Homo sapiens: one gene and its partners. The protein of the gene in region 4 purifies or fractionates together with the protein of the main gene of each other region. This does not show direct contact. Each region holds a gene or a part of one and is shown on either strand. Other genes may lie near its edges. The genes, in order: NRCAM, NAB1, TRUB1 and MVK.

The links.
Region 1: the proteins of MVK (region 4) and NRCAM fractionate together in Homo sapiens (co-fractionation; one large-scale study listed by BioGRID). This does not show direct contact.
Region 2: the proteins of MVK (region 4) and NAB1 purify together in Homo sapiens (affinity purification with mass spectrometry; one large-scale study listed by BioGRID and IntAct). This does not show direct contact.
Region 3: the proteins of MVK (region 4) and TRUB1 fractionate together in Homo sapiens (co-fractionation; one large-scale study listed by BioGRID). This does not show direct contact.

Annotation. Positions count from the first base shown.
Region 1 is NC_000007.14:108,185,586-108,193,781, reverse strand, and holds part of NRCAM (neuronal cell adhesion molecule isoform A precursor), read left to right. Parts: intron 1-1,928; coding exon 1,929-2,053; intron 2,054-2,498; coding exon 2,499-2,528; intron 2,529-4,035; coding exon 4,036-4,137; intron 4,138-8,196. UniProt on the Homo sapiens protein: Cell adhesion protein that is required for normal responses to cell-cell contacts in brain and in the peripheral nervous system. Plays a role in neurite outgrowth in response to contactin binding.
Region 2 is NC_000002.12:190,660,017-190,668,212, reverse strand, and holds part of NAB1 (NGFI-A-binding protein 1), read right to left. Parts: intron 1-8,196. UniProt on the Homo sapiens protein: Acts as a transcriptional repressor for zinc finger transcription factors EGR1 and EGR2.
Region 3 is NC_000010.11:114,953,234-114,961,429, forward strand, and holds part of TRUB1 (pseudouridylate synthase TRUB1), read left to right. Parts: intron 1-6,492; coding exon 6,493-6,574; intron 6,575-8,196. UniProt on the Homo sapiens protein: Pseudouridine synthase that catalyzes pseudouridylation of mRNAs and tRNAs. Mediates pseudouridylation of mRNAs with the consensus sequence 5'-GUUCNANNC-3', harboring a stem-loop structure. Constitutes the major pseudouridine synthase acting on mRNAs.
Region 4 is NC_000012.12:109,590,794-109,595,861, forward strand, and holds part of MVK (mevalonate kinase), read left to right. Parts: coding exon 1-68; intron 69-447; coding exon 448-564; intron 565-4,234; coding exon 4,235-4,388; coding exon of another isoform or gene 4,389-4,399; intron 4,400-5,068. UniProt on the Homo sapiens protein: Catalyzes the phosphorylation of mevalonate to mevalonate 5-phosphate, a key step in isoprenoid and cholesterol biosynthesis.

The DNA of each region.
Region 1 (8,196 bases), on a different chromosome or scaffold from region 4:
CAGGATGGGAAAAAACCCTCAGGCCTGGACAGCATCCATTGTTTTATACCTTGAACAGCGAAGTCTCAACAGATGTTTTCATTACCTTTCTACAAATAAGCAGAAATATGACCTCTTTAATCACCAAAGACTGCTCAAATCCTTGTCAGTATTTTAAGACACTCGTTTTTATTTGGATAGGGAGTTTTTCTTTTGATTTTACCTAAAGCCAGTGAAAGGGGAAGGAAAAACAAAAACAGGTAGAGCATTTAAAAGAGCCCAAGCATGCTGCAGATTTCATTAAGAATGGAAGAAAGGTCATGGCATTTTCCAGATGAGACCCTCAATTTGACATAGTAGTACAGAGTAGATATGTGTTAGTTTTAGCAAAGTGGCTATAGGCCTCACTCTCTATTAGAAGGAATGCTGTATTCTGGTCGAAATCATTTGTGTGGTTCACCTACAGCTGACCTAAAATTGTGGTGCCTAAATATTGCCCTGTTGCTTGTCAATGACCCTGGAAGAACTCTGTGGCCTTCTCTTTTATGTGCCTAGAGTCTCCATCTAATTTTATGCTTGAACTAGTCAATTTTATTTGTTGAGTTGATAAAGATGAAAAGGTGTGGTGGTCTCACACCTGTGGTCCCAGCTACCTGGGAGGCTGAGGTGGGAGAATTACCTGGGCCCAGAAGGTTGAGACTCCAGTGAGCCATGACTGTACCACTGCACTCCAGCCTGGGTGACAGAGTGAGACCCTGTCTTTAAGATTAAAAGGAAACATAAAGAAATGACCATCAGGTTAAGGTGGCTGAAGCTTTTACTTGGAAATTAACTGAGAAGACAGTTTATGACTTAGGCAGTTTCATTAAAATAATACACTAATTCTCTATACATTAATTTTTTGATCTACTGAGCAATTTTTCATGCCCACAAGTTCCCTCTAGAAAAGTCTTAGAGAGATTGTTCATCTAAATCTTCCTGTTTCTAGTGATAAAGCAAATTATTATTCTTTGCATTTAATTTCTCCTATGAGAGTTTATACATGTAAGAAAATGACATGATTTTCTGCAGTAAATAATAAAGTATTTAAAATATATACTTTGATAGAAATTGAACTGAATGAGTGGTTTTCCAATGTTTCTTGGCAGCAAAAGCCTTAGTAAAGCCCTTTAGTAAGGCTAATGCTGGAACTATTCTTCGCCTCCTTCCCCTGGGAACTTAAGGAAGCTCCTTCCTCTCCCTCTAGAGCAGTGGTCCCCAACCTTTTTGGCACCAGGGACTGGTTTCATGGAAGACAGTTTTTCCACGGACAGGGTGGGGGCACAATGGCTTCAGGATGATTCAAGCACATTACATTTACTGTGCACTTTATTTCTATTATTATTATGTTGTAATATGTATATACATATATATATTATTACATGTAATATATACAGTGACAGATCATCAGGCATTAGATTGTCATAGGAGAGCACAGTCTAGATCTAGATCTCTCACTTGCACAGTTCACAATAGGGTTCACCTTCCTGTGAGAATCTAATGCTGCCACTAATCTGACAGGAGGCGGAGCTCAGCTTCACTCGCCCCATTCCCCTGGGGCCTAAGGAAACTCCTACCACACCCTCTAGAGCAGCGGTCCCCTCTGCAGCCCAGTTCCTAACAGGACAGTACCCAGTTCTTGGCCCAGGGTTTGGGGACCCGTGCTCTAGAGGCCTGGTTGAAAAATACTGTGCCAGAGGACATATCCCTTCTAACCCAATATTCTAATTGATTCTCATTGTTTTTCAACTTTAATCATTCTTAAAGTGATATGTATTTTGCTCTAACTTTTGAAAGTGTTTACCATCTTTCTCCTTTATCAAATTTACAGTTTTTTTCCTGCCAGTGAAGCAATTATAGGGTACGGCTGCATGTCCATTTCAGCTGCTCTGAATGCATTCTATCCACAGGTTCACTGTTGACAAGGATCATCTAGTGGTAGCTGATGTCAGTGACGATGACAGCGGGACCTACACGTGTGTGGCCAACACCACTCTGGACAGCGTCTCCGCCAGCGCTGTGCTTAGCGTTGTTGGTAAGAACGAAAACAAAAATAGCACAACTGGCTTCCCTGCATTTGGTTGAAAAGAAAAAATAAGATAAAAATTATAAATATCAAATATTTGCTTGTTAATATGCATGGGTGAGTTCATACCCATGTTTTTCTTCTTTGAAAGATGCCTTGGAGGCAATAATTTCAGTATAAATAGACTGTGTAGCAGCACTGGGTGAAATGGTGGATATGCACATTAGTAACCTTTTTTGTAATAAAATAAGGAGAAATGATCTACTTGTATCTAAAATTGAAGGTTTTTTTTCCTAAATTGTTACTGCATGTTTATCAATGCTGTGTCTCACAGCTAAGCATAGGGCTTAATTTTATAACCTTGAATAATGTACAGTCTTTGTCATCTTGTGCTATCTTGTATCTTTCCATTACTAATTTTGATTAAAATCCTTTATATTAATGTCCTTTCTAGCTCCTACTCCAACTCCAGCTCCCGTTTACGGTAAACTAATATGAGTCTTCTTTCTCTGTTTTCTGTCAAACAATTTCACATTTGCAGAAAGTATTCATAACTTTCTTTTCTATGTCACATAATTGTGTTTCTTAAGGAAAAGGTCTCTGTCAGTTGTTATGTTGTGTCACCCATTTACTGACAATGAATCATTTCTTCATCATAACCACAGATTTTTCACCAAGTTCGTTGCCAGTTCTTTCTAAATAGTTCATGTGCTATTATAAAATCACTTCGTTTGATAAAAGTCCCTCTTTGATGCAATTTCCTTTTAAAGTAGCATAGTGCTTTTTCAAAAGCCATCATCCACATTTTACAGAATGAAAAAGCTATTTCTAATATCATTCTACAAATTAGGCTTTCATCTCAATTTATTAAAAGTTGTTTGGGAAAAATCTTGTTTTGGGATTCCATTTTCAAGAAATGTATATGGGGAAAAATAGATGTTTAGAACAACATTTAACTTTTATATCAGAGAAAACCGACTCACCATGTGTTAACAAAAGACAAATCACTCAAGAAAGACCAAAAGGAGGGGCACATTTATGTTGTGTGGCTTTTTAGAATCTGGAAAATAAGTCAGAAATCATTTCCAGAAATCTTTTTATTTAGAGAACCTTCATCTTTATTCAGTACGTCAATACAAAAATCAATTTTTGGCATCTCAGCTGATTTTGCACAATATTATTAATATTGTGTCTAATTATCCAATATAAAACCTGTGCTTTGTAGACATTTACTGCTTTATGACTGATAAGAAAAAAAAGCACATATATTTGTATGGTCTCTGGTCCCCTAAGAGCCAGAGATACTCCTAGGAGCAAGGTCAAATAAAGGCCTGGGGGGAACAGTAACTCTCTGGATCTCAGAAGCACCATTAGAAGAGGCAGACATGCTTCTAGGACACCTTCATCTCGACATGTGTCTGTCTATACACTGTTGTCCTCTGGGAGTAAACACACTTATGCATGCTGAGGGCTACCTCCATAGCATCTATTTCAGCATTCTTTCGCAAATATAAATATTCTTTCAGAGCCCCAAAATCTGTTATTCAGCATTTTTTTTAGAAAGAACATTTGAATTTTCTTTAAACAGCACCTTTTATTTGCCTGTATTTCTTTTTTCAGCAGTTGCTTTCTCTATTTCCCATGTATTAGAAATTAAGCTTATTATTTTTCATGTTTGTGCCCATTCATGTTTATGAGAAGAAACGCTGAGAGTGCTGATGAACCACATGTGTCTGCTTCACTGGGTTTGGTTACAAATGCTTTCGTTTCCTTTGAAAAACAAGTGAGCAGAACTCATTGATGGGTTATCTTGTGTGTGTTCGTGTGTTCCCAGCAGCCTCAGCTGTGCACATTTCCTTTCAGTTGCATGCTCATTGACTATCAAGTGTGCTGTGTCTTTAAGATGTCCCCTCTGTGAATAGTATCACGAGTAAAGGAGAGCCTCTTAAAGATGGATGCGTGACCATGATGTGTGTATGTTTGGTCTACAGATGTCCCAAATCCTCCCTTTGACTTAGAACTGACAGATCAACTTGACAAAAGTGTTCAGCTGTCATGGACCCCAGGCGATGACAACAATAGCCCCATTACAAGTATGTGGTATTATTTGCTCTATTTCCGATCAACTAAATGGCCATGTTTGAAGCACTTTGTAACAGTCAGCTGAATTTCCTCACAAAGGTATTTACTGGGATTCTCTGCTTCATTACTGATAGAATAAAAATATTTATTTATGTCCTTCCTCTCTTCAGAGCTGAAACTATTCCTGGTTACACCTTCTAGAATAGGACACCCCTTAATTGCTGAAGATGTTGACTAATCAAATACACTGTCATTTGTGTTTAAGATCCATAAAAATCACTTTAAATATCTACCATGTAGGAAGATACACCTTAAGTTAGTTGTTTATTTTGCCCATTTCTTCTGGGAGAAAATGTTAGGAGGAGCAAGTGCTGAATAGCTCTGTCTTCCTATTAGGAAACTGATACTTGATGAGTAAAGTAACTTTTCAACCCCCTGTTGGTAACAGAACTGGGCGTAGATAACAGGTTCTACCTTAACTTCCAACCTAGGTCTCTTTCTTTCCATTAGTCCCTGCTACAAAGTTGCCCATTCAACAATGTGAGCTTCTCACGTTGGTGACACAAGCCTAGGGCCTAGGAAATAAGATAAGGAAGGACAATGTCATAAGGATACTAGAAGAGCATAATAAAATTAGACTATAGGTAAGCTTCGAAGTTGAATTGTAAAACCAAAGAGATACTTAAGAGGCAGACACAATCAGGTCACATGCCTGAAATACATTATTACCTTCAGGCATATACCGCAGGAAGACAATTCCTTTCTGATGACTACCTAAGATGATTCTGAAATGATAGGTGTGTTGATTTATTGCACCTCCTGGTAAAGTAGAATATTTCCACTAAAATTTAACAAAAGCCCCTCCTCTATCTTGTGTTGTTTAATGGTGCTCTTTTCCCTACTTGAGTGTTCAATGTCCTTGATCAGAACACAAATTCATCCAGGCCCAGTCTTCTAGCTCATTGGGTACATTAGCCAGAGTTAGCTGGTTAGATGGCTTGGAGACTCTTTTTTCCTATATTAAAATAATACCATTAGATTTCAAGGCATTTCTACTCTTTCATTCATTTACTCATTCATTCAACAGATATTTTTGAGTGCCTACTGTGTGCCAGACATTGTTCTAAAACAAAATAGTCAAAAATCTCTGTGGTAATGGAGCTTATATTTTAGATGAGGATATAAATAAGATAAAATTAATAATACATTATTAAGCATAATTTCATTATATCTGCATGTAAACATATGTATATATACACACACACACACACACACAGAGGACTCAGATCTACCTTCAAGGGCGAACCTGCTGTAAGGAGTGTTAACCCACAGCCTCCATCTGCTTCTCCTTCTCTAAGGCTCCACTGCAGAGTTCACGTGAGGCCATGCTCCTTGGGGTGCTCCAGTGACTGGGCACAGCAAAGGTCCCAGAAGTCACACGTGCCTAATGCAGAACTCCTCCTGTGTAGACTGTACTCTGGGCTCCTGGTTGACCTGGCTGAGACTATCCCAGAGCTATACTATACTGTAGTCTGAGGCTTCTTCTACTCACTCCTCCTTCCCTCCCCCACTTCCTGTTACAGATGTCAGACCAGCATTGTGGTCTGAAGGTCTTCCCTCCTTCAGGCTTCCTTGCTTCCTCTCCCTTTTTTCTTCCATGGACATTTTCCCAAATAGACCTCTTGCACTTCTTTTTTTTTTGAGACGGAGTCTCGCTTTGTTGCCCAGGCTGGAGTGCAGTGGCGCGATCTCGGCTCACTGCAAGCTCTGCCTCCCGGGTTCACGCCATTCTCCTGCCTCAGCTTCCCGAGTAGCTGGGACTACAGGCGCCCGCCACCACACCCGGCTACTTTTTTTTTTGTATTTTTAGTAGAGATGGGGTTTTGCCGTACTAGCCAGAATGGTCTCAATCTCCCGACCTCGTGATCCACCCGCCTCGGCCTCCCAAAGTGCTGGGATTACAGGCGTGAGCCACTGCGCCCGGCCACCTCTTGCACTTCTAATTCTGTCTTAGCCTTTGCTCCCTAGAGGACTCAAACTCATATATATCTATTAATACATATGACTGTGTTTATATGTGTTTAGGGCATGCAAAAAACAAATCAGCAGAAAGACATGTGGAGCTAGGGGTATAATTGTGAATAGTGTGAATAGGAAAGGCCACACTAAAAGAACATTTGAATGTGTCAATCAAGACAGGGGAGGGAGGTCAGTGAGCACACTATGCAGTTGTCTAGGGGAAGAACTTTCCAGCAAGAGCAAAGGAAAAGAGCAAAGGCCCTAAGACAGGGCATGTCTGCTAGGATGCCAGTGTGGCTGCAGTGAAATGAAAAAGGGAAAGTGAGGGCGGAGAGAAGGTCAAAGAGCTGAAGAGTTCGGTGGTGGGTGTGTAGAGTGGGAATTGTGCAAGGTCCTGTAGGCCACTGTGAAGATGGGAAAGCCCTTGGAGGGTTTTAACAGAGGAGTGATGAATGAATAACTCTGGCTTGTCTATTGAAAATAGTGTATAGAAGAACAAGAGGGGAAGCAGACAGACTGGGTAAGACCATGGTTCCCAAACTGTGCACTGAAGTGCCCTGTGGTACTTCAGTGAATTCACAGGGTACCTTCCTTGGAATAATTTTAAAGTTTTAACTTTTAAATTCTGATATTAAAAAAACACAGTGACATCTGTCAAACGTCACATGAAATTAGCTTGAGGCAGATTACAGGTTCAACTTTATATCCCATGTCATTTTGTGATAATGTTATATCTCTGCAAAGCGTTTGCTGTGATAAAAAGCAAGTGCCACATGGAAATCAGTGGGGAATAGGAAATGTGGAAGGTGGTGTCCAATCTGTTTACAAGGTTTGAGAACTTATATAAGAGAAGCTTTACAATGTTAAGATATAAATAGATTTAAAATTGTTTAAAATTAAATTGCTTACATTTATTTAAGATATAAATACATATAAAGATGTATGAACCTAGCTACTTAATACCTGAAAACATTAGGTAATTCTTTTGGCCTAAGGGAGCCATGAAAAATAAATTATGGAGACACTAAGTACACCATGAACCGAGAAAGTTTGGGAACTACTGAGTTAGGAGGTTATGTGATAACTCACACAAGAGATGAGGGTGGCCTGGAATAGGCTGAGAAATGGTCAGATTTTGGATATATTTTAATGGTACAGGCCATTGTACTACAGAGAGTGTGGAAGAAGTAGGGAAATAAGAAGGATTCCAGATTTTGACCTGGGCTGTCACTATCAATTGGAGAGGAAGATTAGAATTAGTTTTGGTACTATCCAGTTTGAGATGCTGTCATGGACAACCAAGTGGAATTGTCGAGCAGACAGTTGGACTTCCTGAGTCTGCAGTTCAGGGAAGAGGTCTGGGCTACAGATGTAAACATGAAAGTCATCCATTTATAGGACTGGAGATCATCCAAAGATGAATGTGGATTGAAAGGAGAACTCCAAGGACTTAGTTTTGAACCACTGCAAGACATATAATATTTTTAGTTCATCTTTGTGTTTATAGTGCATATCATGGTACCTGGCACATAGTAGGCAATCAGTGAATATCCAAATACCTATTATTTTACAAGGGTAAAGTGTGTACACACCACAGAATTTTAGTGGACGCAGAGGGTATGCACTGAAAAATATGTCTTCCTCCCGCCCCTGTCTCCCAGCTCCTCTGGCCACACCAATGTTATAGGTTTATATTCTCTGAGAGGTAATATGCATTTATATGCAAGTGAATATGTCTGTTTATTTGTTGTAGTAATTTCGTTTTACATTTACACAAGCATAGTATCCAGCACACACGATTCTATACCCTGCTTGGCTGCTTGGTTTCACTTAATAATACACTTTAGAAATCATTCCATTTCAGTACGTATGGAACAGCCCTATTCTTTTTTTTTTTTTTTCCTCTCTCTCTCTCTTTTTTGAGACAGGGTTTCACTCTGTCCAGGCTGGAGTGCAGTGGCTTGATCATGGTTCACTGCAGCCTTGACTTTCTGGGCTCAGGTGATCCTCCTAGCTCAGCCTCCCCCATAGCTGGAACTATAGGTGCACGC
Region 2 (8,196 bases), on a different chromosome or scaffold from region 4:
ATTTTAAGAAATTTATACATTCCACCTAACTACCCTCAGAAAAGTTTCTCTAAATCATAATGCTGTCAATAATTACATGATGAGTCCATTTCCTACAATCTTGACCAACACTAGTTATTATCTTTTTAAAACTTTACCAATTTTATATTTCTAAAACAGCATTTGGTTGTAATTTGCATCCCTTTGACTATGAAACTAAAGGTTTTTCTTACATCTTTGACTCATTACAATGTTTCATGTTCTTAGAACTTCAGGAATTCTTTATTAACAGCATTAACTCTTCATCATATGTAATGGGATTTTTTTTTAAGTTTGTCATTAGCCATACAGTTTCTATGCCTTGGGTGACAGGCAAAGAAAATCTCTTCCTACTCTAATAATATATAAATGTTCCATAATTTAGTCTAATCGTTTTACTTTTCCCACCTAAGTATTTAAACCATCTAGAATGTGTTATGGTACATGGTATGATATAGATATTTAACATCCTCCTCCCCAAATTTATAACTGTAATTTATATTAATTTGTTCTGAGACAATTAATTTGGCCACTGACAGCAAGTTATAATAATAAACCCAGGTCTCCTATTTTAAACCCATAGCTGAATATGAAAGCATAATTGAAGGAAGAATTTATTTTCAGCCTTCTCCACTCCTCCTAAAGAGTCATCAATAGATAAATTCCTCCCCTAAGTGCCTTTGAAAGGCACAATGTTATTGGAGTTAAAAGTGAAATGTATACTTTAAATAATGATATTCAAAATAAATCAGTTTCAGCATGGCAGTAGCTAAATGACCTTGAAGAGGATTCTCAAATAGCTTTTTATGTAGCGATTTATTTTTCATATTAATAAATCTAAATTACTAAGGAAACCTCTGATTTTCAGTAAGATGTTTTAACTGACAACATTTCAGAGGTACTAGCTTATGCACAAACACAGAAAATAACTTTTCAACATAAACTGAAAACAATATTCTAGTATTCCTTCTCTTACCTTTCCAGAAACCAAGAAAAATAAACATAATGCATTCATTGTCACTGAATTCAGGCTCCCACAAACCAAAAAAGTAGACTAAACTCCAGGCCCTCAGGGAACCTGGTAAAAAACTGAGGCTGGAGAAGTAACTCTAGCTCACCCCCAAGTTGTAATAAAAAGCTGATTCATGAAGCCTCTCCCTTAAAAACACGTGTTCTGTCAGAGTTACCTAGATTTCATGCTCCCTAGCTGCTAATAATGAACACATCAATAACTATCATGATATAATTACAAAAGAAAAATGAAAATATTCCCAAGCAGTTGGGAAAATATGAAAATATTCCCGTCACTTGCAGCAGCACTGTTAGCTTTTTCTGAATGCCAATACTCTAATTTTGTTAAAAGGATAAAGTAACAAGATATTCTCCCTTACTGGTTTACTTATTTCCTCCATTTCCTCTTTTTGTGGCCCAAAATACCAAAATTCCACCATATCTTTATGTGAAAGATTTCTTAAAGTTCGCTTCCTTTTTCTTTTTTTTTTGAGATGGAGTCTCACTCTGTCTCCCAGGCTGGAATGCAGTGGCGCAACCTCAGCGCCCCGGGTTCAAGCGATTCTCCTGTCTCAGCCTCCCAAGTTACTGGGACTACAGGCATGTGCCACCATGCCCAGCCAATTTTTTTGTATTTTTAGTACAGACGGGGTTTCATCATGTTGGCCAGGCTGGTCTCGAACTCCTGACCTCAAGCAATCCACCCACCTTGGCCTCCCAAAGTGCTGGGATTACAGGCGTGAGCCACCATGCCCGGCCTCTTAAAGTTAGCTATCTTTTATAACCGGACTTAAAAACTGGACTTACTACAGTTATCTTTATCCTTAAGAAGAGTGGTTTACTGATTCCTAAAAAAACTTTCTTTACAGGTTGTTAAAATTATAATCTCCAACAATTAAATGATTGTGACTTTAAGTACTGTTGGCACAAAAACACTGTGAACAACTGTGTGATAGGGAGGCTCAAAAGGCAATCAGGACTTTCATTTCCAGCACTGGGAGGGCTAGGTACCATTACTGGCCCCTCTCAGAAAAAAAAAACTAAAAATGTTAAATAAAATAGGGAGGGGATCATCTTTTAAATGCTCAATGAGCTGATGAGAATAAGGACATTGAGGCCAAAATTAATGAGTACAGTACCTCAAAGAAGTTTAAGTTAGGGACAGTCGCTAAACTTGATGAGCTTGAGTTTCAATCTTCATGGCCTCATGGGGTTGAGGAGAATGGGAAGGAAAAAAGAGGCAAAGCCCACAGCCCATCAGAATTGAAGAGTCTAAGATGCCTCCTCCATAAAGCTGAAACCTCACCACACACACCCAATGTAAGGCTGAATTAGAAATACGTCTGTACCCCCAGGAGAATGCAAAGAAAATTATCTGTCTTGAACCCTAGTAATGACTGGGAGAGAACAGAAGATACTCTCTTAAGATTTCATAACCCCCAATCAACCATAATTCACACTAAGTGGGCTGAGAATTTATTTTCATAGGGTCTTAGATTTGTAATGTCCCCAGATGCCCAGTAAAAAGAAAAAGCAAATAACCTCTAGGGAATTCACTTTCTTCCCGGGACTCCAAATGTTCTCACAGTTAAAGTTCCAAGAAATATGAATTCACATAAATCATAAAACATCAAAAGAAACAAGGCAACAAAAGTGAACACTAGTAGAAACAACAGACAGCAAAATCAGACCCTCAAAGACTTCATTTGAAGAAACAAAGGGATTTGAAAATACGACTAAAAAGCAGTACAGTAAAAATAACCACGAAACTTGAGAATCAGGAGAGGAGAATTGGACAGAAACAAGATTTTAAAAGTACACAATAAATAGCAGAATAACCACTAACTTTTTTTTTTTTTTTGAGATGGAGTCTTGCTCTGTCGCCCAGGCTGGAGTGCAGTGGCATGATCTTGGCTCACTGCAAGCTCCGCCTCCCAGGTTCACGCCATTCTCCTGCCTCAGCCTCCCGAGTAGCTAGGACTACAGGTGCCCGCCACCACGCCCCGCTAATTTACACAAAGGTATCTTTAATTACTAAGGGAAAACCACTAACATTATAGAATTTAATACCCCAAATAAATAGTAATTAAAAATGAGGGCAAAATAAAGATATTTTCCAGTAGGTAGGGAAGGACAGAGTTTGCCACCAGTAGGCCTTCATTAAGAAAATCCTAAAAGAGCTTTCGATAGAAGGAAGCTAATCCCAGATGATAAATCTGTACAGAAAGTATATCAGGGCTAGAGGGGAGATACAAATAAAATAATGGAAAAAAATCCAAAATATTAGTCATATAATAAATGTACATGGACCAAATATTCCAGTTAAAAAACAAAGCATGTCTGACTGGGTTCTTTAAAATCCAACTGATCAGTATTTATAAAAGATATATATAAAACATGGATTCAGAAAGGCTGAAAATAAAAGGATGATATAAAGATATAATAAGGAATAGACCAGGTGTGGTGGCTCACGTCTGTAATCCCAACACTTGGGGAGGCTGAAGCAGATAGATCGCTTGAGCCCAGGAGTTTGAGACCAGCCTGGGCAACGTGGAAACCCTGTCCCTACAAAAAAAAAAAAAAAAAAAAAAAAAAAAGGAAAGAAGAAAGAAAGAGAGGAAGAAAGGAAGGAAGGAAGGAAGGAAGGAAGGAAGGAAAAAAGAAAAGAAAGAAATTAGCTAGGTGTGGTGGCACATGCCTGTGGTCCCAGCTACCCAGGAGGCTGAGTGGGAGAATCACCTAAGCCTGGGAGGTCGAGGATACAGTAAGCTGTGATCTCACCACTGCATTCCAGCTAGGGTGACAAAGTGAACCCTGTCTCCAAAAAAAAAAAAGATATAAAGATGTAATAGGCAATGACTAACAAAAAGAGAGCTCATGTATTTATATCAACATTAAAGAAAATAGCTTTCTAAAGCAAAATACATTATTAAAGGTTAATAAGATTACTGCGTAATACAAAGAGAAACAGACAACACTACAATCAGTAAAATTTTAGTACACAACTCTTTTTACTGACAGAGCAAGCAGACAAAATAATAGTTAAGAATATAAGATTTGAATGACAGAATTAATAAGCTTGTTAGAACAGACACATATAGAACACTCTACTAACAACTGCTTAAGATATCGTTTCCAAACGTAAAAAACACAGACCACAAAATGAATCATAACTAAACTCTCAACAAATTTTAAAGGGTTGGCATCACACAAACCATGTTCTCTTGCCCTCAATGTAATTAAGTCAGAAATCATTAGGAAAAATAAGGAAAAAAAATTACTCATATTTGGAAATAAAGAAACACTTTTAAATAACACATGGTCAGAAATCATAAAAATAATTAAAATTGAAAAATAATAAAATAACCTCATAACAAAACTTTGGGAATAACACTGAATCAATACATAGTGAAAATTTATACTTTAATTGCTCATATTAGAAAAAGAATGACTAAAAATTAATGAACTAAGCACCCAAATTAAGTTAGATAAGAACAATAAAATAACTAAGAGAGGAGACAAATATATACACGTGTACAGCACAAGCAAGAATAGCAACTAAGCCCAGAGTGGCTTCTTCAAAAAGATCAGAGGTTGGCAAGCTTTTTCTGTAAAAGGCCAGAGAGTAAATATTTTAGGCTTTACGGGCCAAACAGCCTGTGTCACAACTACTTAACTCACCATTGTAGCTCAAAATCAGCCACAAACAGTACATAAATAAATAGGCCCAGCTGTGTGCCAATAAAAATTTATTTATAAAAACAGGAGGTGAGTGAGACTGGGCACACAGACCCTAGTTTGCAGATCTCTAAAAAAGAATAAAATTGGCAAACCTTTGGCAAGGTTGGTCAGGAGCTAAGGAGAGATAAGTGTACAATCAATATTAGGTCAATATTAGGTCTTAAAAAACTATAAATAACTTTACGCCACTAAGTTTGAAAACTCAGATGAAATGGATATTCTTAGAAAAATGTAACTTACCAAAATTGACTCAAGAAATAGACTACCATAATTCATTTTTAAAAATCATCAGAAGGAAAAGTCCAGCATTTCAAGTGTTAGATGCTGAAATCTATGAATTCTGAGATTGAGAGTTCAGAATAAAACAAGCTAACTTAATAATGTGACCACGTTTATGCGGTTCTCAGATTCAGCATTCCTCCTCTCTCAAAGGTGAAATTGCTGGCCTCCTCTGAAACACTCAGCCTTGACTTCTCAGCACTATAATGGAAACTGACCTAAGCTTGGCATCACTGTTTATTCTATAGGCCTGGGTCCTTATCTTGGTAACCTGCTCAGCACCCCAATTCCTGCAGAGTTTCTTCTGCTCAGCTTACAGTTACCCGCTGACTACATTCTCCTCTTCTCCTTCCTATCTTTCTAGAGCTCTTTGACTGGAAGCTGCTATCTGCTGACAAATATTCTGTAATGCCAAATTATCTACCTGCTTACATTTCTGAGTATTACAAGTTTCTACATTCTCTATTGCCTTGCTGTTCCCAAGTTTTAGTTGCTCTCTCCTCATCCATTCACTGATTTAACATTAGGGGTACACTGCTTGCCTAGTTTACCACCTACTATCTATTAACACCCCTTATGATAGATGCAACATTGCCTGCTGGCTTTTTTCTGATATCGCCTCTGGGTTTGTCCCTTGGCACCTGCCGAACACCAGCAAGGTGTGTGGTTCTAAGCTTCAGCCCTCACTCTCTTCACAATCTGACACCTATAAAACAGACTGTACTTAGCCAGGCTGTAGGACTATTGCTGATTCTTTAGCTTAAAAAAAAAAAAAAGAGGGGCTTAACAATAAGTCATTCCATAATTCTTTACGGTGTACATTTGGAAACAAATTATGTTATTATAAATATATAAACAAATATTTTCTTCTTCTTACAAGAAAAATAATCTTATGTACTTGAACAGTTGAAAAAAACTTACAGGTATAGATAGCTTCCTGAATTTCATCCACCAGTGACCTACATACAGCTCTATGTCTTGAAAGATTAAGAGAACAGTATCCACACAATTTATATGAAGAAAATCCTCAGAACAGTGAGATTAAGCCAACAATGAATTAAGAGTAAGTCATGTATTCCTTATGTGGAAATTGAGTACAAACTAGCAACATTCTTTAATCTCAGGAACTTAGAACTAAAAAAACTTCTGCTAATTTTAAATAATCAGGAGAAAAAATACAAAATTCTCATAATACCTAAAAGATATACCTAATAGTACCTTCTTTCAATTCCCCCAGGATTCTGTAATTTCTTCCAAGATCTTGGATAGTTACTAGTTTTAAGAAAGCTTCCTGATTCACAAACATTTATCCTAAACTATATTATTGGACCAGATTCACATACTGGAGTACAAGTAACAAGAAGGCCTAAGTTAAGTTTCAAAAACACAAGCCACAACTTCCAAAGCCCCCACCCCCACATTTCAGCCTACTGGCATTCATTTTGAGTATTTCCTTATTTTGTGAAATTCATGGTCTCATCACTTAAATATCATATGTACCTACTTATCTAAAGAGGCAAAGAGCCCCTTAGCAAAAGCTAAGTGTAAAATAATTCTTTTTACATTTTTTAAAAGTAGGGTATGATTTTTTTTTAAGTCAGGTTAACTAGGTTTGTTAATCTTTTAGAAATACTTTTACTTTGATAAAAAACACATGTATTTCGACTCAACTTTGTATTTCATCTGCTATGTTTTAAAAATTATAAGAAAACTAGGTTAAAGCATGAAACTAAAATTGCCAACACATTTTGCCTTTTGTTTTTCTACTAATGACAGCCATATAGCCCTTTTAGTGGATTCCTCTACTGGTTCAAAGGATACTCCCAAAATAGATCAAGTCACAGGCTGGCTATGACTTAAGTAATTCTGCTAACCAATTATCTGATCTCAAGCTCCAACATTCATGTCTAAAATCATTTATTTAAAAAGATCAGGCTAGGTACAGTGGCTCATACCTGTAATTCCAGCACTTTGGGAGGACAAGACAGTTCTATCAGTTGAGCCCAGGAGCTTGAGACCAGCCTGGGCAACAATGGAGAAACTCCCATCTCTATGAAAAACTTAAAAAATTAACTTGGTGTGGTGGCACACACCTGTTGTCCAAGCTACTCAAGAGGCTGAGCAGGGAGGACTGCTTGAACCCTGGAGGTCCAGGCTGCACCCACTGCACTCTAGCTTGCGTGACAGAGTGAGACCCCCATCTCAAAAAAAAAAAAAAAATTAGCTATGACATAGTCTTTTTAACTTTTGAAAACGCATTTATTTTCCAAGCACTTATTGTGTACATTTGACTCTGGGGATATAAAGATGAAGGAGACATTATCTCTGCCTTGAAGAAACCCAGAGTATACTGTGAAGCACAGACCAGTATACAAATAAGTACAATAAGAAGTTAAAGTTATTGTGACAAAAGTATATGTAGGGATAAAAATGGAAAGGAACGGTCATTCTACTTGAAGGAAAAGATTACAGAAAACACAAGCTTATTCTTGGCTGAGTTTTAAAGATATGTGTTGACCAGATAGACAAGAAAAGGAGTAAATGCCAAAGTTTATACACACACGTGAAGTATAATGTTATATGGACAAAATGTTATATCTATACACACATATACACACACATGAACTTAAGCAGACTATGTCTAGAGTACTATAAAGATAAAATAAAAATGTTTAATGCCAAACATCAAACCAAAACAATGTTCAAAGTGAGAATTCTTCCAACATTCATCTAACTGTTTTCTATGCTAGCTGAGAATTGCTTTAAGTTCTTGCTATTTTTATGAAATTTTTTCTTTAAAAAAAGCCTACAAAAATGTTTTTTAAAAGTTATATTTAAAACCTAGTTTTATTTTTTAATTAAAAAACAAACAGCCTTACAAATGCAAAGACTTTACGCTTTCACTGCTTAAATTCTGACATTTTTCTAAAAGTCACCTCGTACTGTAGTTCCAAAGCTCAAACATGTTCAAGTTCAATACAAATATACCCTGAACACAATAAATATGGTCTATTTTCACAAAAGTGCTACATGTTGCTAACACCTCAATGTTTTTAATACTGCTTTCAGGTAGTGTATCACATTTGTGGCAAACTATTACCAAATTTATCTCTAACGACTAGCAACATGCCACATACACACACAGAA
Region 3 (8,196 bases), on a different chromosome or scaffold from region 4:
TGTCATACAGTGAAATCACTGATCCTCAAAATGACTGTAACATAAATAGAATACCACAGGCACGTCTTGTTACAGAAACCTAGTTCTTAGGTATTTCAAAAATAGGCATCGTTGTCTTGTTAGCTATTTATATTTCTTATCCTTTTAATTTTATGTACCTGTTAAAAGAACTAAATCATTAAGAGTTTAATGTTGAAGATTATTTTTTAATAAAAAGTAGTTAAAAACTGTTAATAAATATTTTTTCTTTTTTTAAAAGCACTAGAAGGAATCTTAGAGATCATCTTATCTAGTGACTTTCAAAATTTTTTTGACTAAGACCCATAGTAAGAAACATATTTTATGTAATGACCATATAGATACATACATTTATGAAAAGGAAAAATTTTATCAAACAACTTTGTGTTAGTCTGTTTGTGTTGCTGTAAAGGAGTAGTCGAGGCTGGGTAATTTATAAAGAAAAGAGGTTCATTTGGCTCATGGTTCTGAAGTCTGTACAAGAAACAAGGTACTGGTATCTGCTTCTGGTGAGGGCCTCTGGAAGCTTACACTTGTGGCCATGTCGCATGGTGAGAGAGGGAGTGACAGAGAGAGAGGCGGAGGTGCCAGGCTCTTTTAAACAGCCAGATCTCGCGTGAACTCATTGCAGGGAGGGCACCAAGCAATTAATGCAGGATCCGCCCTCATAACCCAGACAATTCCCACCATGCCCCACCTCCAACACTGGGGATTATATTTCAACATGAGATTTGGAGGGGGCAGACATCCAAACTTTATCCAACTCTAACCCTATGTATGATGTATTCTTGATACTTTTCCTTCTATTTCATTAAAAAAAAAAATGTGGCTGCAGCCCCCTAACTTGGCCCAGATCTAATGTCCACTTTTTCTTCACTTCCTATTTTGACAGATGAATTTTTATTTGCATCACAGTGCAACTAGAAAAATTAGACTTCTGGTATGTGTAGGATGGAGTTACGTCAAGAGTAGAAATATTTAGTTCTAGGATGGCAAATATTCAGTGTTCTTGTTACAGCCATATTACAGAACAGCCTTCTCTCCCTAGCCAGTCGTAATTGGAGATATTGCTAATTGAACATGGCCTAACATTTCTTCTTGCTGAATCAAGAAACACCCTTAGAATCTTCTTCAACATGGTGCCACTTCATACAACTACTGTCACTTACTAGATGAAATTCTGGCTTTTAAGTAAAATCTTTAGGCCATCACATTATTTTGCTTCCATCTGTGAAGACTAGACACTAATCAGACCACCCAAATCATTTCTTGCATTTCCTCCCATTCAGATCAGGGTAAAAGTTAAGAAAAGAGCCACTGCTCTGTGTTCCTCATTGTCTTCCTCTCCTGCCTTGGAGTGAGCTTTGTTCTGCCAGTGATCATATTTCTCAAGTCTTTTTTTTTTTCCCTGTGCCTGATCATTTAGGATTATGTGTATAATGTGTGTGAAAAGCATGTGAACTTTTTGTACAGTGCCTTGTGTATGGAAATTGCTCATTAAATACTGTTATTACTATTCCCAAGTATTTTACTTATCCCCAAGTCTCTCTCTTGAGGTCCAGGCCTGTTGGAGCTTTCTAGCCACATGTTCTGTAGACACCTGAAATTAATTTTACTCAGGCAAGTTCTGTTGGAACTCTTGAATACAGTTAATTTCTTTTTTTTTTTTCATGGCTATCTGTGATTGCTGGTGATGTAGGCAAAATATTGCACTCATCAGAAAGAGAAAGCATGCCAGTTCTTTAAGGGAGAGACAGACTTTCCTTGGACATTAAAGCCAGAAAGAAGTTTCTGACAATAAGAGATATTAAATGACAGATAGATGGTGATTTTCAAAAATAGTTTTACAACAGATGTAGAAATGGAGCTACATAAAATACAGTTTAGGTAAAATTCTGAGAGGTTAGGCTGATGTGTTCCTTTGGCCTAAGTTGATCTAAGTATAAAACGTTGCTTACCTAGAGGAGGGCAAATAGCCCCTCTTATATCTTCCCTAAATTACACTTTCTTTGAGCCAGTCATTCAGCAAAAGCTGGATAGCAGATGTCGTACTTTGAAGGAACAGACAGAAGGAACAGAAGAAAACAGATGAGGTTTTGGAGTGCTGTCTTTATTAGTTTTCTATATTGTTGATCAAAGTTGGTTACTTTATAAATGCTTTAGAAACCAGATGGAAAGGTTATGAAAACCTGAATAATCTAACTAGCATGTCCAGATATAAAGGTACCTCCATATCTCTGTGCAGGTAAACCATAGTGGCACCTGCAGGCAAAGCCAGCATCTCCTCAGAAGGCAACTTTGTATCCCCCTCCAGTAGTTAAACAAGTGTCATCATTGGAGTGAATGAAGTTTCCCCTTCTTGGTGTGGTCAAAGGATAGTAACTTTCCCCAAGAACACAGTAACATTTTTAGGTTAACCAGTTATGAGAACTCTAAAGTGTGGCTTGAGTAATGCTCCTATGAAACTTAGCCAACTCTTGAAGATTTCAGCATTTCTAATCAGTTTTCTCCAGAGGCTAGTCCAGTTTGTACCTTTTCTATATACGCTATTAATTTTCATATATTTCATAAATACTGTATTGAAAATTTTAAAGGGCTTATACTTATGAACTATAAAAAAGGACTGTTCCTTCTTAATGAAGACATTCAAAGCCACATGTTTTTGGTTTGATAGGTTTTTTAAAAAGTGTTCTTTCTCATCCTCAGTAATATCCCTATTTTGTTTGTGAAGGTTTAAATCACAAGCTTTCAAAATCACACCTCAGTTGAGATCCAAGGAAATGATTGTGTGTATACTTTCTGTAGTAGAAACATTTTTCTTTCTCCTAAACAGAACAGAAGCTGATTTGCTGCTAGAGATGTCTAGCTAATACCTGCTGTGGGGTTTAGGGAGCTTGACGATGAGTAAAGTAGAGAGTAGAATAATACCAGTGAGAAACTGTGAGTCCCAGAGAGTACACAGGTCAATGGAATGTTCTTCAGGACCTCTCTTTTGTTGCAGTAGAATTACATTGTAATGAATACAGTAGTAGAATTCACGGTTCCCAGGTATACGTCTTGGAGAATTAACAACTCCAAAGCACAGACTCTACGTAGAATTTAAGCCAGTGAAAAGAAATATTTTAGACTCCATAAGATAAAATGTTAGGGTTGAATGTGTGTATCTCCATGTCTTTTTTCTTCTATCCCAATATCTTTTTGGTCGTGAGGCTTTGTTTCAGCTGAAGGCTTAACTGTGTGGGTGAATTTTTCTAAATGGTTTGTGGATAATTGAATAAAATTGAAGGATAATTATAACTAGATGCCAGGACAAGGGAAAGCTAGGAGACAGCTGATTTCAATCATCGGTTCGCAGGGTGTGGTCTAAGGACTCCTGAGACTCTTTCAGGGTGTCTGTTGAAATTGAAACTATTTTCATAGTTTTGCCTTTTTAACTTGCAATCCCACAAATACATGGTAGAGTTTTTCAGAGATTACTAGATGTGCAATGACATCATTGCTCTGATGGCTAATGGAAGTTTTAAACATTTTTCAGCTTTAATTTCTAATACAATAAATCTAGGCAGATATAACATGTTTTTAAAAAATGTGTGCCAGGGTTTCTCAATAAGTTTTAAGTGTGTATAGGAGTTCTGAAAGCAAAATGTTTGAGAACATTTTGATTTGATTTGATTTGAGAATGTTGATTTAGATATTGTCTCCCCTAAAAAGAATCCAGCACGTAGCTACATACAATATAATTGCAGACCCTGGAGTGGGTTGAGACTTAGCAGATGAAATCTAGATATTCAAAACTATGGTGAAATGTGAAGAATTGCACACATAGGCACTTCTCTAGCATGTGTATCATTCTGTCAGCAACTTTTTATTAAGCTGCTACTGTGTTTCTATTTAGGAAAGAACACAATAGATGAGCAATGGGAAACTCTAGCTGAGAGTTCATACTTGCAGAAAGTAAGGATCAATAAAGTATACTTGGAAAACAGTGAATATCTCTGTAGGTCATCATGTGCTAAGATGTGTGATATGTGTGATATGAGAGCTCAGTGAGATAAACCAGACATGTCTGTTGTTGCCATTATATCCAGTCCTCTCTGCAGTAGTTGTGTTTATTGAAGTTTTCCTGTTACACTGTAACCTCTTAGAGGGAGAGCAATCTATCTTATGTATCTGTGTATCCTTCCCTAGCACTTAGGAGAATACTTTGGACATTCATAGTCCTTAAGAAACATGATCGAATTTGTGGATTTGATATATGCCTTCCTTCTTTCTATGTATGGAATTTGTATCGAGCACCTACTCTTAGTCATGCTGTGGAGGTGGGTAAATGGAAGTTGGGATGGATTAAGGGGTGGCTTTGAAAGCTGAATAAGGTTTGATCCTTAGAGAAGAGTGGGAGTTCAAGGCCAGGGAAGTGGCATATGTGCCCCAGGTGCACAAAACACCAAGAGTCCAGAGACTAGAATGGGCATTGCATACTTGGGAAACATGTTAAGGTTCCTAGTTCAAACTCGTTGCAGAGCAGAATACTGCAGATACATTCAAGGCATAGTCTGCAAGATTGCACCATGGTTTTCTTATGCAACTAAACAGACTCTAAAGACAAAAAAATCATAAAGCATTTTGATGCTTTGCTTTCCTTATGGGAGCTGACTGTAACCAGATGAGTCAACTCTAGCCACTGTTAACTGCGAATCATTCTGTATTTTCTTTCTTAGAAAATAAAGATGATGATGGTATTATTATCTGTTATTTACCAGGGCTAGATATTGTTACTCTAAACTCTTTGCTTCTTCTCATGAGGCATTATTGTTTTCCACATTTTAAGATAAGGAAATTAAGCTCCAGCCGGAAAGACTAACTTGGTCTACAAATTGTGGTACAGTCAGAATTCAAATCCAGCCAGTTGACCCTGAGCCTGTGCTGTTACCATTGTTGTACTTCTCTCATACTTCCCCCTGTGGTATGCTTAGTCGAGGTTGATTGTCCCAAAATATAGAAGCAGGAATGGGTGTCTCAGGTGATGAGACTGTGTTTAGTTACAAAAAACTAATTTTTGTCAATACCTATGAAACTTTAAAAAAATTAATTGAAATGCGTTGGAATATTCCCTTCTGTATTATATTTATTTTTAAAAAATCTGAGCTAGATAATATTAAGGTGATTTCATCGAAGGGCCTTAAGCTGTTATAAAATGTCTGCATACTTACAAGGTTTTGAAGTTTTAATATTTTTCTCATTTTTGTCTTGGGTCCCTTCACTAGCCTCATAAATTTGTCATGAATAAGCTTATATTTCTGCAAAGTACTTTGAGTTTTCTTTTATAAAATTGCTCACATAAATACAGATTATTTTCAGTGGGAAATAAAGTTCTTGCACTTTTTTCACTACTTCATGTGATGCCCCAAATAAAATTTGCGTTTGACCAAAGTGAAAAGAGTACGTACTACAAGTGTGTCCTAAGATGAGAAATAAGACAATCCTCACGTAACTAAGAATGATCTAATTCTTCACTTGTGAATAAAGATCAGTTCTTAGAAACGATTCTTGTTCCTGAGATCTTAAGTAGTAATTTATCTTTATTAAGAAAACACATGGCCGGGCGTGGTGGCTCACGCCTGTAATCCTAGCACTTTGGCTTTGGGAGGCCGAGGTGGGTGGATCACCTGAGGTCAGAAGTTCGAGACCAGCCTGACAACATGGTGAAACCCCATCTCTACTAAAAATACAAAAAATTAGCCGGGCGTGGTGGCGGGTGCCTGTAATCCCAGCTACTCCACAGGGTGAGGCAGGAGAATCGCTTGAACCCGGGGGACGGAGGTTGCAGTGAGCCGAGATCGCACCACTGCACTGCAGCCTGGGCAGCGAGCAAAACTCCATCTCAAACAAACAAACAAACAAAAAACACATTTAATAGTTAAGTCACTAATTCTGTGACTATACTGGTTTTGCTCTTTTTCTACAGATTTAGCTTTTGTTTAATACATGACCTAGTTACTAAGAATTGTCTTAGTATTTCATGTAAGAAGTACTAAGTTGGCTTATTTAAAATTAATTTTAATTGTATATGTGGGAAGATTATTGAATCTTATGATGACCATGGAGTCAAGGCTATTGTACCATTCTCTCTACTCATGGATAGACTTGAACATTTTCCTTAAACAAACTTCTCAGTATAAAGGTGGTTTGAGAAATTTGCTTACAATAATAATGGTCATAATTATTAAGCCATAATTATCAATAAAATCAGGTTTATCTTTCTCATATTGGCTAGTGTGAGACGTTTGTTAATGTTCTTCAGTTTACACAATTGCTTTCCACATATTAAAAACAAAACAATTGCAGTCTGTTGTTTTAGCCTGTATTTTGTATCAGGTTGGTAGTAGTAGTGAAATTCTGTGTAAACTTCAAGACATGCATAACAGTTTTTGTTTGCCTCACGGCCCATTTTCTCTCTTGTTTCCCTTCCTCTAGAGATATACTGCCATTGGAGAACTGGGGAAAGCTACTGATACACTAGATTCTACGGGGAGGGTAACAGAAGAAAAACCTTACGGTATGAAGCTCATCTAATGTAGGCCTCTTTTCTAACATTTAGGAAAAGTTTCTGTGCAGGTAGCATTTTAAAACAAATCTCTGATATTATCAGCCATTTTAATTCTCAGTGTGTTTCTTTGGGCTAAGAAGATTGGAAATTGTTTATCGCATTGTTGCTTACTTGATAGGAGTTTTTGAATAAAGATTTATTGTGATTGCCTCTTTTTCTATAGTGATGTTTTAAGTGTTCAGAATTATTCTTCCAAATAACCTCCTTGCAAAAGCATGTATGGCTAGGATTTAGGTTATTTTCCCTAGTAAACGAGAAACAAAGCAGAGATACTCTGTTAGATTTCATCTGTCTTGCCATTAAAAAAAAATATATTACCTGTCAGCTGTTGAAATAAATGTACCAGGTTTAGTACTTTAAAACTTGTCATGTTTTTGTGCTTTCGGACTATGTAAAAAGAGGACAGAGGGCAAGCTATTTCTCTGGAAGTAAACCAGAACTCACTGGGGCCCACCTTAAGTTTCCTACTATCCCTTCTTTCACTACCGTAAGGAAGAATAGATAAATTAAATGGTCTCCTAGCAACTCTCACAGTGCTTATGCTGTTTATAATGCAGCAATTGCAGTTTTCTAAGTCAGTTCACCTGCATCATTATGTCACCAATTTGTGGACTGTTTTTTTGTTTAGTGTTATCTCTTAGTCATAGGCAAGCCAGCATTTGGCCCCCTTATATTTTTGTGTTGATTATCCTTATTACGTACTGCATATTGCCCCAGTAGTGAGGCCAACCTTTTTATTGTTCATAATAGCTTCATTTTTTCTGTTAACATTTATATGTAGCTTAGTATCTTGCTCAATTAATCAAGCAACATAATGAAAAGAAAAATTACTGATTGATTTCAAGGCTTTTCAAAAACAGATGTTGAAATATTCTTGGAATTATTATTATTAATAAATAATAGCAGACCCTCACTTAACTGAAAGCCAGCTATAACCTTCAACCAGAAGACTTTAAGATTAAGGAGGCATAGGGCAATAGGAGGACGTCAGAGACTTCCAGAGGATACTAAAGTATTTATAAGTACTTATGTAATTAAGTCTCCTGTATCTCTGACTCCATTTACCAAACCATAATAAGGAGAATGATTATTATTCAGAACAGTAGTCCTGGGGTAATATAATTAAGGCTGGGGGGTGTGGGTACCACGTGGTGAAAAATATAAGGCGCACTAGAGTAGACAAATCTGGGTTTAATTTCTAGCTCTGCCCTTATCTAGCTGCGCAAATTTGAAATTTTCTTAGTCTCTTTATGTTGTAGTTTTTCCATCTCCAAAATGACAATAATGATAGCAACCTCATAGTGTGATTATGAGGATTGATTGGAGGAGAATGAATTTGGAGGTCTCATAGACAAGTCATGAGGCTCTTATAGTAGTCCAAGCAGAGATGATGGTAAGTTGGACCAGGGTGCCAGTGGTAGAGACAGAGTTTTCCTATTAGAAAAATTTCCCATGATTAGGAAGTAAAATTAGCAAGACTTGATTTTTAGTTGATTGGACAGGATAGCGAGGAAGTTGTCAACCATGACCTAGGTTTTGGGGTTTTAAAATTGGTTACATGATAGTGTAAT
Region 4 (5,068 bases):
TGACCAACACCAAAGTCCCTCGCAATACCAGGGCCCTTGTGGCTGGCGTCAGAAACAGGCTGCTCAAGGTGACTCTTGTTCCCTTCTTGGGCAGGTTTCAGGAAGGCCAGGACACAATTACATCTGGATTTTCGAGGTCTCCCTCTGGCTGATGGGTTATAGGGGGTGTGGTGGGTGGTGGGGGCCCTTAGGGAGGTGGTTTTGGCAGAAAAGAAGGTACCGTCCGTGCCCGTAGCCTGGCCAGGAAAATGACAGTGGTCGGGCTCGTTAGACACACTGACTTTGCAGCTGGGAAGGCAAAAAAACAGGCTCAGAAGAGAGGTGGTTTCCCCAGAGGATGGGCACGGGCTGTGTGAACACCTCCTCCCTCCACCCCACTGCTGGGGCAGCTGTCCTGCATCTGCCTGCCCCCAGGCCTCACCAGCCGTTCCTTCTTTTTTTCTCCAGTTCCCAGAGATCGTGGCCCCCCTCCTGACCTCAATAGATGCCATCTCCCTGGAGTGTGAGCGCGTGCTGGGAGAGATGGGGGAAGCCCCAGCCCCGGAGCAGTACCTCGTGCTGGAAGTAAGAGCCTGTCTGCAGGAACCGGGGTTACTGAGTCCACACCACTGTCCAAGGCAGTGGCTCTGCAATCTGGCTGTGCTCAGAATCCCCCGGAAGCTAGCACATAGAGGTCAGGACCTGCCTCTGGCCTATGCTCTCAGCTGGGCCCAGGTCTGTGCGTGCCATATAAGCGTATCTTATTTTCAGGCCTCTTCCTGGGTGATTCCGAGTAATTGGGAGAGTGCAAGGGAGGCCAGGGCCTGGCTCGTGCTAAGTGCAATGGAAACAGGTTTGGGTCACTTCTAAGGAGCTCTGGCCCACGTAGGTAGATGGGGATGTGGCTGATGCAGAGTGCTCTGTCGGTGCAGGGGTGACTTCTTGGTCACTCTCCTGCTATTGCTAACTTCATGGGTGCATTCAACAACTACTTGTCAACTGCCTGCTTTGGGTCAGACAGATCCTAACATTGTTTTTTCATCATTGCAACCCCATCCACTGCCATTTGCATAATTCTAGTGTAGAGGTTGTGACCTGGTACTTTGGGTGTGATCAGGCCTGTGTGTGAATCCCAGCTCCACTTCTGCTGGACGTGTGGCCTCGCTAGAGTGTCTTAAGAATGCTCAGATTAGACGGGCGCAGTGGCTCACCTGTAGTATTAGCACTTTGGGAGGCCAAGGCAGGTGGATTGCTTGAGTCCAGGAGTTCGAGACCAGGCTGGGCAATGTGGTGAAACTCTGTCTCTACAAAAAATACAAAAGTTAGCCAGACATGACGGTACATATCGGTAGTCCCAGCTACTCGAGAGGCTGAGGCAGGAGGATCACTTGAGCCCAGGAGGTCAAGTTTGTAGCCTGGGCGACAGAATGAGACCTTGTCTCACACACACACAAAAAATGCTTGGAGTCTCATGGGTGACACGCAAGCACAATGTCTGGTGTGCTATGAGCTTAGGGAACCAAAGAGCCCAGGCTCCCCCTGGACACAGTCCACCTGGCCTGGTGAATATGGGCTGTTAGCCATCTGGCTGCCCTTGCAGAATGAGAGGATCGGGTGGCCCCTAGCTGCCGTGGCTGTGCAGCAGCCGTCAGTGAAGGGACAGGAGAGGGGCGTGCGGTCTCCATGTCACCACAGTCCCTCCCCGCGCCCCGCACTCTGTAGTCATTGCCTGGTGTCTCCCGGTCCCCCGTGGGCATTCGAGTCTGTAGCCCCTGTGCTGAGTGGAAGCTGCCACTAAAGCAAGCCTTTTACAAATGATTCTTTTCACTTGATCCTCACACCCACCTCCCTGTGAAGTAGGTGTCTTATCCCTATTTTACAGATGTAAAAACTGAGGCCTGAAGAGAGACTTCCCCCAAGGTTATCCAGCTAGTGAGTGGCCGAGCCAGGGGTCCAGCCGACGGACTGGTCTGTCCCTTTATTCAACAGATCTGTCATGAGCACCTACTATGTGCCAGGGCAGCGCCTCCATCGAATTCCTGTGTTTCGGCCCTCATTCCCTCAGTCTTTGTCTTCCTAGCTCTCAATTCCTTCCACATAGAAAGGAGGGAACACAGTCCCCCCGAGTAGGAAATCAATAATGATAGAATACTGCCTAAAATACACCCTGTCGAGTCCCTGGAGAATGCCACAGAACAGCACGTTGATTATACATTGTGTGTATTTTTGGCTGTGGCAGCCGCTGAAATGTGCAGCTCAGCTCCTGGACAGCTTTGCACTCAAACCAGCGAACTGTTCTCCTGTGTCACAACCTGTCATCTGATCCTTGACAGATTTTGGATCAGAATGTGACAGGTGTCTGGAACCTGCCTCGGCAACGTGACACCTGGTGCTCAGGCGCAGAGAGCGGCCCCCAGAAGTCTTCTCTCACATCCAGCCCATCAGGCTGGTGAGAGGCACCCGGGGCTGCCACCAGGCCATCATGCCTGTCTGCTCATTTGTCAAAAATGGTGAGCTTGGCGCAGAGCGAGGTATGAGGCAGGCTGTTGGGGAGGGCCACTCCAACCCTGCCTGACCGGCCATCCCCATGCGGGAGAGCTAGGTGGGCCTCCGCAGAGATGCCTCAGTGATTGGCAACTCCTGGTATACAGGCAATCCAGGTGCCCCGGAACAGAGCTTCACACGGAAGTGAGGAATGCCAGGGGGTGCTCTCAGAGGCAGGGTAGACAGGAGCTTCATGTCAGGCAGACCCGCCTTCCAGTGCCAGCTTGGTACCTACTAGCTCAGTGATCGTGGGCAAGTCACTTCTTCTCTGAGCCTCTGTTTCCCCTTTTGTAAAGTGGGGATGATGCTAACGTACCCATAAAAATACTAACAGCACATATCTCGTGCCAGGCATTGAACAGAAAACTCACCTTGTTTCGTCTCAGGGCAAAGAAGCAGATTTTTTTTTTTTTTTTTTTTTTGAGACAGAGTCATCTTGCTCTGTCGCCCAGGCTGGAGTGCAGTGGCACAATCTTGGCTCATTGCATCCTCCCAGGTTCAAATGATCCTCGTGCCGCAGCCTCCTGAGTAGCTGGGATTACAGGCACACGCCAACATACGTGGCTGATTTTTGTATATTTAGTAGAGATGGGGTTTCGCCATGTTGGCCAGGCTGGTCTCAAACTCCTGACCTCAAGTGATCCACCCGCCTCGACCTCCCAAAGTGCTGGGATTAAAGACGTGAGCCACCACACCCTGCTGAGGCAGATACTCTTATGACCCCGGTTTACAAGCAGGAGACAGACCCAGTGCAGAAGACCTTGCTCAAGGACACACGACCAAAAAGGGGCAGAGCAGAGACTCGAACACAGGCCTACTTGACTCCAAATCCCATGGTTTTTACTTCCTGATGGCTGGGACCGTGGCTGGGCACCCATCCTTAGAGCCCCAGCACGTTGTGGGTGTTTGGTAAATGAAATCTAACTACTGGGTGCCTGGGCAGTGGAAGCTGTGAAGTTTTATTTTTTCATCCACATGCATCTTGTTGGATCCTTAAAGAGCAGGAAGTTTATCCTGCATAACTGAAGAAACCTAGACAAACAGCTGTTTCCCTGCTTATGGCCTTGCTGGAGTTACACCTAGTTCTTATTCTGAAACCAGTCCCCAAGGCAGCTGTAGGGAGGCATGTTATTTGAAACTTTTTCTCTTGCAAATGGCAGAAATCCATTTCAACCAGACTTTTGTAGAAAGGGAATGTATTGGCTCTCAACTGAGAAGACCAGAGGTAAATGGCTTCAGGTATAGCTCAATCCAGGGGCTGAAACAATGTGTCGGGAATCTGTCCATCTGCCACGTAATATCTGATCATGTGGCAAGATAGGTCATCTTGGCGACTTGTGTCTGAAGTTAATTATTTTAGCAGCTCTAGTGGGAAGGGGCAGAGGAAACCCTGGGAGGGCTGTGATTGGCCCAGCTTGGACCACATGCCCATCCCTGATCAGTCACCAGTGCCAGAGGCTTCTGTGACCAGCCCTAGGATATGTGCTCACTGCTGTGGTGAAGGTATGCTCAGCTCTACCCAAGCTCCGTGAGAAATGCTGCAGGGCAGAAGGATTCTTTTACAAGTGGAGAGGGCCAGGGTGCCAGGTAGGCAAAGCCGTTGGCTGTCTCCAGCCAACAACTGTCAGATGGACGAGGCAGGCTCAGGGGTGGGCATAGGACCTTGGCCTCAGGCAGGCCAAGTGGGAACAGATGGAACCTTCTCCCCTAGGAGCTCATTGACATGAACCAGCACCATCTGAATGCCCTCGGCGTGGGCCACGCCTCTCTGGACCAGCTCTGCCAGGTGACCAGGGCCCGCGGACTTCACAGCAAGCTGACTGGCGCAGGCGGTGGTGGCTGTGGCATCACACTCCTCAAGCCAGGTATCCCGGGGGTAGGTGGGCCAGGCTGCCAGCCTGGGCTCCTAAGAGGGGTCCACCTGGAGAATTCCCTTGAAAGGAAAAAGAGACCTGGAAACAGGTCTCAGCTCCGCTGTGTGGCCTTGGGCAAGTTAGTTAACCTCTGGTCTTTGCTTCCTCATTGGTAAAATAAGGATGAGAGTATCTAGCTTGCAAGATCGTTGCCCAGATTCAAGCAGGAAAGTGCACCTAGAGAGCCTGGTGCAGGGCTGGGCTGTGGCTGGGGCTCCTGTCATCGGGGCTGTCCGCACAAGCTTGGGAAGTAACCAGGGCATTGTCACTCTCCACGTCTGCCTAACCTTGCCCCACTTGTACCCTTGATGTGGTCAGGATGCGGTTGATTTTGCTACAAAACGAAAGGGTTTCCTTCCCGTTGGTTTGGGGAAAGAGGAAGACCGAGTAATGGGCTTGGCTTAGGAAGCTCCCTGGTGCCTGGGGGCCTGGCAAGGGGCTTCTGCTAGTGTTTAACCACCTGACACCTACCTCTGCCCTCAGGCTCGCTCCTGGCCTACAGTAGGCACTAACCGGTCCCACCTGCCTCCATTTCCCTCTGTGCTCCTTGTCCCCTCCTTCCTTCCTTCTTTCTCTTTCTGTCTTTATCTCCTCCTCTCTGTTCTTCATCCTTCCTTTCCCCTCTGCTTTGC